3 linked regions of the Homo sapiens genome follow. The protein of the gene in region 2 purifies or fractionates together with the protein of the main gene of each other region. This does not show direct contact. Each region holds a gene or a part of one and is shown on either strand. Other genes may lie near its edges.

Region 1 (3,655 bases), on a different chromosome or scaffold from region 2:
TGGGACAAATACTTTTGTCCTCATGGATGGCTTGATAATTTATTTATATGTTCTAGAGTCTGAGGATTTTCTTTCAGTGGCAGACAACAAAGGATGTTACAATTTACTTCAAAATAATACAATCATGGTTTAATTTACAGTGTAAATCCATAACTATTTTATAGAGATGGATTATAATACATGGGATTATAAAAAATAACTTACCCATATGTTTGCAAAATAGATTTTCCTTATTGTGAGGAACATTTTTTAAACTTAAAACGGTATTTATTCAGTATGAATAGAAAAGTAAATTTTTTCAGAAGACCCAGCCTACCTGCATGATCTCTTGTACAGCTTTGCAGGCCTCTTCTTTGCTCTTTGCAACAATCACCCCTTTTCCAGCTGCAAGACCACTGGCCTTCACAACCAAAGCAGGGAAGTCTGCACTGTAAAGACAGAGTAATCGTCAACATCCAATAAACCATTACAACTCAAGATTTTAAAATGCTGTGGGATTTTGTAACGATATGCTATAGCAATGACTGAAAAGCAGAAAGAAAAAAATTAATTATCATTCCAACACATTTTGATGTACTTCCCACCAGGATTTTTTCCCCTACGTATTCCTTTGTAGTTCCAATCATACAGTACCTACAATTTTGCTTTTTTCATTTATCATGAGATTACATAGGCAATATCTTTGGAAGAATAAGTAGATGTATAGAGTAGATATGGCATAATCTCTAAGATACAAAGTAGCAAATAGTACTCTCATTCAGGTAGAAAATGCGGCTGTATAACAACAGTAAGCATACACAGACCATTTCTGGGAGTACACATATGAAATTATCAAGTGGGCCTGGGGGTCTGGAAGGAGACTTACCCAAAGTAAGTAACAAAACTGTTACTTGCTCAAGGCATCTGGCTGCTAGGAAATAATAATATTCAGTGTTTAAGAAACTCTTTAGGATATGAATGAAAAAAAAATGAAACTGACACAACTGAAAGGAAAACATAACCAGGAAGCAGAAGTGCCAACAAAAAAAGGGCAAATGCATGTGTCTACTAACACTCATTAATTGCTCAATGCTTTCCACATAATAGAGAACAAAGGATGTTTAATTTTGAAATTTAAAATTGCAATAGTGGCCAGGCGCGGTGGCTCACGCCTGTAATCCCAGCACTTTGGGAGGCCGAGGCGGGCGGATCACGAGGTCAGGAGATCGAGACCATCCTGGCTAACACAGTGAAACCCCGTCTCTTCTAAAAATACAAAAAATTAGCCTGGAGTGGTGGTGGGCGCCTGTATTCCCAGCTACTCGGGAGGCTGAAGCAGCAGAATGGCATGAACCTGGGAGGCGGAGCTTGCAGTGAGCCGAGATAGAGATAGCGCCACTGCAGTCCGGCCTGGGTGAAAGAACGAGACTCAAAAAAAAAAAAATAAATAAATAAATAAAAATAAAAATAAATAAATAAATAAATAAAATAAAATGGCAATAGTGGTGGCAGATGACCAAGTGATGATTACTCACTCTGGTTAATTATTTATGACAAAAAAAATCAATGTTCTTTATGTTGTAAGATGCCACTGCGTTTGTCAATCTGACCGTGAGGCCTAGTGTTACGGCTCATGCCTGTAATCCCAGCACTTTGGGAGGCAGAGAGAGGCGGATCTCTTGAGCTTAAGAGTTTGAGACCGGCCTGGGAAACATGGTAAAACTCCGTCTCTACAAAAAATATAAAAACTAGCTGGGAGTAGTGGTGTGTGCCTATTGTCCCAGCTACTTGGGAGGCTGAGGTGGGAGGATCACTTGAGTCCAGGAAGCAGAGGCTGCTGTGAGCCAAGATCACGCCACTGCACTCCAGCCTGGGTGACAGAGAGAGGCCCCGTCTCAGGTTGGGGGGTGGTGGTGGGGGGCGGGGAACCAAAAACCAAAAACATGGCTGTGAAGAGCGCACAACTGCAGAACCAAGTGTATTTTTCCCCTGAGGAACTACTCAGATTTTATTAAAAATGTCATCTTCCTGCAAGGCCACAAGATCATATAAACTCTGTATGCATAGGATCCCATTTTATTTTGGTTCTGGAAAACGACAACCCACATAATATTTATTGAGAAAGTTTTTTCCTTAATTATCTTACTACATCTTGAGACAGCCTAAAGACCTAGCATTACATTTTCAACACAGAAGTGACCTGTATATTTATTTAATTTTTTTGAGACAGGGTCTCACTCTGTCACCCAGGCTGCAGTGCAGTGGCACAATCTTGGCTCAGTGCAGCCTCCGCCTCCTGGGTTCAAGTGATCCTCCCACCTTGGCCTTTAGAGGAGCTGGGACTACAGGTGCACACCATCATGCCCGGCTTTTTTTTTTCTGTATTTTTTGTAGAGACAGGGTTTTACCATGGTACCCAGGCTGGTCTCTAACTCCTGAGCTCAAGTGATTCACCTGCCTTGGCCTCCCAAAGTGCTGGGATTACAGGTGAGCTACTGTGCCTGGCCACTGACCTGTGTATTTAAATATCAAAACTAAACAACTGTCCTTCACAGACAACCATTTACCTACCTCAAAATGAAGCTGCAGGCTTCTTCAGGTTTGGTGAAAGCCTTCCATTGTGCGGTTGGGATTCCATGTCTGTCCATAAACTCTTTGGCAAACCTTTTGCTGGACTCTAACTGAGCCGCTTCTGCTGTTGGGCCAAAGCATTGCACTCCTGCAGACCTCAGGTTCCCAACAATCCCTATTGATGAAAACAGTAGCCTTAGGTGAACCAAGGTCTCCCCAGGGGCTTTTCAGCCTGAAGACGAATTAGTATCAGACTATATCTACATCTAGACAAGGCAGATGACTGGTGGCAGAGGATAACTAACTTTTTCATGTTGTCTACTGGATAGAGATAAAATGCTATTAACATGTTATTCAAATCTATCAAAAGTTGTTATATTTGCATATATGGATTATTAAACACACACCAGAATACAGCAGAATAAAGACATATAAAATGTTTTCCATGGCTGCAAATTTGATCTCTAACTCATCATATAACTGATGCTTGGGAAAAAAAATCTAGACTCCATAAATTTCGAGAGTGGAAGCTCTTTTTCCAAGATAATATTACAAATTCTCATCTGTAAAATGAATTGGATTAGATGATCCCTAAGCTTCTGTTTGCACTGAATATACTGTAACAATAAACAGAAACAAACTTTACCAGCAGCCAGAGGTGCTTCTGGTCCAACAACTACAAATTCAATTTTCTTCTCTTTGCAGAATTGAGCAAGGGCAGTGTGGTCACTGATTGAGATGGCTGTAAACAGAAAAAAAAAAAAAAAAACCACTGCATTTACAAAAACATTCCACTTAAGTAAACTAAGTGTCTCACTAAAAAAACTAAGTTCTATACTTTAGTATGCTTGTTATCTGTTGGTTTTCTTATATTGGCAGAGATGACAGTTTCAACATGTGAAATTCAGAGGAGAGTGCATTAGGCTAACCAACAGAGCTCAGTTCTCCGTTATCATTGTAGACAGATGAAAACACCAATAAACTTCCCAAAGAGCCATAAAGTATCACCTCCATGATATTGTTCACGTCACTAATATTGACTGTATATTAAACAAAAAACGTAAGATATACTCAGAAATTGGTCTTTTAATGTCAATCAATCAAT
Region 2 (3,655 bases):
CATAAAGGTGGGCAGAGACTGCCCATCTTCCTTTCTGTTTCCTAGCCACAGAATCCATATGCTCTGACATCTCCCCTAAATTGGCTAGTCTTTCTGCTCCATATTCACATCAACCTCAAACCCAACCAAGCTTTAGGTAGACAGTTTTCTTATTTATCAGCAATGTGGTATAAGAGGAATGAGCACACACAAATTCTAGATCCAGATTCAGAGACCTTGAATTCCCAGCTACACTGAATCTCTCTTAGAATGATTTTACATGTATAAAATAAAATACTTATGATTACAAAGGAAACCAACTAACTTGCACCCCAGGTTAAGAACCCTCACTTAGAAAATCTAAGTTCTCTCAATGTTTTTCAAAATGAAAAAAGTGACACCTCTCATTGCATAGTTAGGCATATTTTAAAAGACAGTGTATGTAAAGTGTCTGGCAAGACAACTAGGTAGTTTTAATACCTCCATGGTTAATTCAAATCTTATCAAGGTATCACTTATTAAGTTAGGAGCAGGGGAAAGAGGATCTTCAACACAATTATCTAATATCTATTCAGCAAAAAAAAAAAAAAGTGCAGAATTAAGAAGGATTAAGATCTTAAGTGGTTTCCCAAAACTTAAGCAACATCACAGTTCTTACCAGATCACTATCTAAAGCTTAAGATAACCCTAAACCAAAAGACAGACAGGGCCCCTTTCCATATCCCAATTTTTGAGTGATTTGAAAAAAAAAAAAAAAAGTTTACCTCCTTAAAAACAATTTAAGTTTATGACTTTCAAATATTATGCTGTATTAGCCAAAAATCACATTATTTTGGTTTGGAAAAAGATGACTTTAAAAAATATATAAGAAAACCAACAAGTTGTGAGCTTTCTTCAATATTGTTCAAAAGTTTCCTATCAAAACCATATATGTCAGTCAGGCATGGTGACTCACACCTGTAATCCCGGCACTTTGGGAGGCCAAGACAGGAGGATCACTCGAGTCCAGGAGTTCTAAACCAGCCAAGGCAACGTGGGGAAACTTCGTCTCTACAAAAAATACAAAAATTAACCAGGAGTGGTGGTGCCCACCTGTGGTCCTAGATATTCAGGAGGCTGAGGTGGGAGAATTGCTTGAGCCAAGGAAGTTGAGGCTGCAGTCAGCTATGATTGTGCCACTGCACTTCAGCCTGGGTGACAGAGTGAGACCCCATTTCCAGAAAAAACAAAGCATCTTTCATTTGTGCCTTAAGGTTTGAGGTTTTACACTTAATGACATCCCCCAAAAAAGCTTCTTCTGTGGACATTTCTACAAAAAAACACTTATTTTATTTTTTGAGACAGAGTCTCAATCTGTTGCCCAAGCTGGAGTGTAGTGGCGCGATCTCAGCTCACTGCATCCTCTGCCTCCCAGATGCAGGTGATTCTCGTGCCTCAGACTCCCAAGTAGCTGGGATTACAGGTGAGTGCCACCCACACCTGGCTAATTTTTGCATTTTTAGTAGAGACTGGGTTTCACCATGTTGGCCAGGTTGGTCTTGAACTCCTGACCTCCTGACCAGATGATCCACCCGTCTTGGCCTACCAAATTATTGGGATTACAGACATGAGCCACTGCGCCTGGCCTAAAAAGACATTTAAATTCAGTAAGAACTAAAGTGACTTGACCAAGCTCATGCAAGCTGACAGATGCAGCTAGTTTCTATTCTAAATTGTGTTATTTCACCCATGCTCCTTTGGCCCACAATGAGATGTGACTTACACTGTGTGGCTTCAAAGGCCAGAGTCAACTATGATTCACTACCTATAATTGTGAAATCTGCTCTTCTTTTAATGGGTATTTTGCAAATGTGTACCTTATTAGTACCTATGAAACACCTTGACCAAATGCTCGATATTTCAGATTTTTCAAGCCAATGTTTCCCCAACAGAAAATCTTTCTGATATATGAATTAATATTGTATCTAATAAACTAATATCAAAATCTCCCACTCTTACCATACTCTCATCTCACCTGACTATATGATTATAAAGGCCATCAGAAACACCAATGAAAATGTTTCCAAGTTTAAAAGCAGGAGCACAGAATGATATGGTTTTTAGACAAATTTTTAATTACATGTCTATTTTATGCCTTGCACTACAATGCAGGATACCACTTAATTCACTACTCCACAAAGAAATTAATTCCTTGTGCTTCCACTTATGTCTTCTTATGCCTAAATGTTTGTCGAAGATCCCAAGGTCCAGCATTCAATTAAAAGGGGTAAACAGTTTTTATACCGTGCTAGAAGTTTTTTCATTTTACATGGCTTGACTGGCAGCAGATTGCACTAACATTAAAGTTTCAATGGTGTGCAAAAATGAAAGGCTAGGCATTAGTCAAGGCACCAAATTGCTGACAATAGCAGGAAATGGTACATACAGATGGCAAGGACTAATTGCCTGCTAAGGACACCTGTAAGGACTAAGAAGGGGCATTAGACGCAAGAAACAGGTAGGCTTCAAAGAAAAAAGGACAAGTTAAGGAAGCAGGGCATTAGACTCAAGAAAAAGGTAGGCTTCAAAGAAAAAAGGACAAGTTAAGGAAGCAGGGCATTCCCACCACGCATAATTATGTGAACAAAATCAGCTAGGAAGCAACTCATTTCATACTCAAGTAGAAAGAGCAGGATAAAAATAAGATTAAAGCAGTCTTTATAGCCACATCTAATTAAGATCTGTTGTTATTCCAGATGAAGAGAATGCTACTGCCTCATCAGTAGATTCTTTCTAAACTGTTTCTCCATAGGAGAGGTAATAATTTTATGATTCCTTCACTTATCCATTCAAATAGCTGAGCACACACTACATGCCAAGCAGTGTTCTCGGTGCTAGGGATATAGAGGCTAGCAAAATAAAATGCTCTAACCTCGCTCTACCTGAATATTAAAGCCTAGTGTTTAAGGTCTGGAGACAAACTCAAGTTATTTAACTTCTTTAAGCCTCAGTTTTTGACACTAAAAATGTAGTTTACCATCTAGGATATTTGTGAGGATTAAATGAAGTAATCGCCACATAATATCCATTTAATGATTATTTTTTCTTTGCTAAATCCTGATGTAACCATTTAATCATAGTTATCCACTGTTATTATGTCTTCACCTTAACTTCTCTGTAACCAACTACTAGACATATTCTCTTTTTGTCATCTAAGTAAGTGGTTTTGTTATAAAGTCTCTCTAGGTGAAACAAAGTTAACAAGCCTTGGCCTCATTAATATCATCCATAACTATCTAAACAAGCCAGTCTAGACAGACTTGTATTTGTCCTAATAATAGAAGAATGGTTACATATTACTTGAATGTTATTTATTGACATTCATCTCAGCCCCTCGCCCCACCCCCATCTCACCCCCCAAAAACTTAATGCCCCTAAACCCTAGTGTAAGCATGGTCTTAGTTACTTGGTTCCTGCCTCCATCTCACCAAGCACAAATTGGTTTTGGTGTTTTGAGCCCAGGAGTTCCAGACCAGCCTGGGCAACAAGACCCCCCAACTCTAAAATCAAGGTAAAATAAAATCCTGGTTTTTTTTAATGCAACATGGCCCCCAAACTTAACATCTGCTACTCAACTAAGGAATGCAGTGATAAATCATGACTAGAAAAGAGACAGAAGATTGGCATCTTACATGAG
Region 3 (3,655 bases), on a different chromosome or scaffold from region 2:
TAGCTGGGACTGCAGGCGCCCGCCACCACGCCCGGCTAATTTTTTGTATTTTTAGTAGAGACGGGGTTTCACTGTGTTAGCCAAGATGGTCTTGATCTCCTGACCTTGTGATCTGCTGTGATCCACCCGCCTCGGCCTCCCAAAGTGCTGGGATTACAGGCGTGAGCCACCGCGCCCGGCCCCCACTGTACTGTTTTTGACAGTGGTTGTACCATTTTACATTACCACCAACAATACACAGAGTTCTAATTTCTCTATATCCTGGCCGACACTTATCTATATTGTCAGTAGTAACCATCCTGTTGGGTGTGAGGTGGTCTGATTTTTTTTCAATTGCTATGCTGTATGACATCTGAGTTCCTGTTGTAGAACCAAACACATTAAAGTCTGAATTGATAGCAGGAATGGGAACAAAACTAGAGGAAGAATTGGATATTCTGAAGTGGCTGAAGTATTTGTGTCTATGCAGTGTGCTTCCATACATTCAGGTACTGGTTAAGATGCTGATAGTTAAGGGATTTCCTGGCTCTAGTACCTAATGGAAAGTTAGGAACAAATAATTCCAATCCTTGCCTTCTTCTTGTTTTGTTCAGTTAAATTGTCAGTCATCAGCCACAGATATCGGTGGACTTGGTTTCTGTATTTCTTCAGGAGAGACTGAATACGTTGCAGTTGATACCTTAGAATAATTTAACTTGAAAGCATATACATGTACACTGGTTAAGAAGTTTCATATAAACCACTTTTAGTTTTAGAATGGGTATAATAAAATAGCAGATGCTGATAAAATGTGCTTTTGGCCAGGTGTGGTGGCTCACACCTGTAATCCTAGCACTTTAGGAGGCCGAGATGGGTGGATCACCTGAGGTCAGGAGTTCAAGACCAGGCTGGCCAACATGGTGAAACCCTGTCTCTACTAAAAATACAAAATTTAGCCTGGTGTGGCGGCACGTGCCTGTAGTCCCAGGTACTCAGGAGGCTGAGGCAGGAGAATCACTTGAACCTGTGAGGTGGAAGTTCCAGTGAGCCAAGATTGTGCCGCTGCACTCCAGCCTGGGCAACAGAGCTAGACTCTGTCTCAAAAAAAAAAAAAAAAAAAAAAAGAAAAGGTGCTTTTAAGAATTCCACTAAAAAAAAAGGAGAGAATTATCCAAATATTTTCTATCATTTATGACTAGTAGATGATAGTAAAAGCAAACTACTAGATGCCAGCATTGTTCTCTTCCACTAACATTTTATTGTAAAAAATCTTCAAACACACAGAAAAGTTGAAAGTGAACATTCGTGTACCCACCACTTAGATTCTATCATTGATAGTCAAATAACTTTATCATATTTACTATTATAGCAAACTTTGTCATTTGTCCATCTCAGTAGATTTTTAAAAATTGTTAAAGTTTTTTTTTTTTTTTTTTGAGACGGAGTTTCAGTCTGTCACCCAGGCTGGTGTGCAGTGGCGCGCGATCTCGGCTCACTGCAACCTTTGCCGCCTGGGTTTAAGCAATTCTCCTGCCTTAGCCTCCTGAGTAACTGGGATTACAGGCACCTGTCACTGCGCCCAGCTAATTTTTGCATTTTTAGTAGAGACGAGGTTTCACCATCTTGGCCAGGTTGGTCTTGAACTCCTGACCTCGTGATCCCCCCACCTCAGCCTCCCACAGTGCTGGGATTACAGGCGTGAGCCACCATGCTTGGCCAATTGTTAAACTTTTTTAGTTTTACTTTATTTTTTAAAAAATAGTAGTAAAATACACATAACATAAAATTTACCACCTTAACAATTTTTTTTGTTGTCTTTTTCTGGAGACGGAGTCTTGCTCTGTCGCCCAGGCTGGAGTGGAATGGCGCCATCTTGGCTCACTGCAACCTCCACATCCTGGGTTCAAGTGATTCTTCTGCCTCAGTCTCCCGAGTAGCTGGGATTACAGGTGTGCGCCACCATGCCCGGCTAATTTTTTTTTTGGTAGAGACAGGATTTCACCGTGTTGGCCAGGCTGGTCTCGACCTCCTGACCTCATGATCCGCCCCTCCTGGTCTGCCAAAGTGCTAGAATTAAAGGTGTGAGCCACTGTGCCCTGCCTGCCTTAACAGTTTTTAAGTGTACAGTGGTATTAAGTACTTATTACTCCATCTTTTTTTATGCATTTCAAAGTAAATTGGTGACACCAACACACCTTCCCCCTAAATATTTCAGCACCAGCATTGTTTTAAATGCTTTGTATGTATTATTCCTCAGAATAACCCTGAAAGGTAGGTAACATTATTATTGCTGCTTTATGGAGAGAGAAACAGGCTTCTTAGGTCCCCTGGGTCCTGCAGCTGGAAAGTAGTCCCAGTGTCCTCAGTCTCTAGTATGCACTCACAGCCATCCTTGAGGCCATCTTACCTCTTTGCACCATAGTCAGAGTGTGTATGATGAACAGTTCAAATCAGATGCATTGCCAGATTCTCAGCTAGATGTTACCTTAATCCAACCATTTGACTGTTGTTTATCATTGCTGTTGGGTACAAAAGAGACACCAAAGCCCACCAAAGGAATTACAATACTATTGAGGAAGAGGAAGAATATGTGTAAACAGATAAGTAAGGACCAAAATATGACTGTATGATATGGATAATACTAAAGTAATATCATATGTGATTCCCAGGTCTGTTATTTTGAGATGTGTAGCTGGTAAAACTGCATTTCTATAGATTTCAAATGAACATTTTCTGCCTTGCATTTGAAGTAATTTACGTCATATCAATTTAAATGAAATCTGCAACTTTCAGTTATATCTGCTACCACACTTTGTAGGAGAAGCAAAATTGACTGTTAGGGTTCTCTTTTATTTTATTTATTTATTTATTTGTTTATTATTTTGTTTTTGAGATGGAGTCTCGCACTGTTGTCCAGGCTGGAGTGCCGTGGTGCAATCTCAGATCACTGCAACCTCTGCCTTCTGGGTTCAAGCGATTCTCCTGCCTCAGCCTCCTGAGTAGCTGGGATTACAGGTGTGCGACACTGCGCCTGACTTATTTTTGTATTTTTAGTAGAGACGGGGTTTCACCATGTTGGCCAGGCTGGTCTCGAACTCCTGACCTCGTGATCCACCCACCTCTGCCTCCCAAAGTGCTGGGATTACAGGCGTGAGCCACTGTGTCCGGCCTATTTATTTTTTTTGAGTAATACCATTGAGCATGAAGTTGCCAGAAGGCTGGGTGCGGTGACTCAAGTTTGTAATCCCAGCGCTTTGGGAGGTCGAGGTGGTCAGATCACTTGAGTCCAGGAGTTCGAGACCAGCCTGGGCAACATGGTGAAACCCTGTTACTACAAAAAATATAAAAATTAGCTGGGTGTGTTGGCATGCGCCTGTAGTCCCAGCTACTTGGGAGGCTGAGTGGGGAGGATGGCTTGCACCCAGGAAGTCAAGACTGCAGTGAGCTGAGATCACACCACTGCACTCTAGCCTGGGTGACAAAGCGAGACCTTGTTTCAAAAAAAAAAAAAAAAAAGTTGCCAAAAATAGGCAGGTTAATTTTGGGGTGAGACTTGTTATTGTTAGCATTTGTTATCCTTTCACAAACCTCATGTTTGAGTCAGTGATTATAATAGAAGAATAGTAAAGCTGTTTATTTATTGTGTGTTTACCGTGTGTTCTAATTGTTTTGCATG

The links.
Region 1: the proteins of KDM3A (region 2) and GART fractionate together in Homo sapiens (co-fractionation; one large-scale study listed by BioGRID). This does not show direct contact.
Region 3: the proteins of KDM3A (region 2) and ECPAS fractionate together in Homo sapiens (co-fractionation; one large-scale study listed by BioGRID). This does not show direct contact.

What each region holds. Positions count from the first base shown.
Region 1 is NC_000021.9:33,532,029-33,535,683, forward strand, and holds part of GART (trifunctional purine biosynthetic protein adenosine-3), read right to left. Parts: intron 3,293-3,655; coding exon 3,197-3,292; intron 2,726-3,196; coding exon 2,551-2,725; intron 429-2,550; coding exon 317-428; intron 1-316. UniProt on the Homo sapiens protein: Trifunctional enzyme that catalyzes three distinct reactions as part of the 'de novo' inosine monophosphate biosynthetic pathway.
Region 2 is NC_000002.12:86,444,371-86,448,025, reverse strand, and holds part of KDM3A (lysine-specific demethylase 3A), read right to left. Parts: intron 1-3,655. UniProt on the Homo sapiens protein: Histone demethylase that specifically demethylates 'Lys-9' of histone H3, thereby playing a central role in histone code.
Region 3 is NC_000009.12:111,477,741-111,481,395, reverse strand, and holds part of ECPAS (proteasome adapter and scaffold protein ECM29), read left to right. Parts: intron 1-3,655. UniProt on the Homo sapiens protein: Adapter/scaffolding protein that binds to the 26S proteasome, motor proteins and other compartment specific proteins. May couple the proteasome to different compartments including endosome, endoplasmic reticulum and centrosome.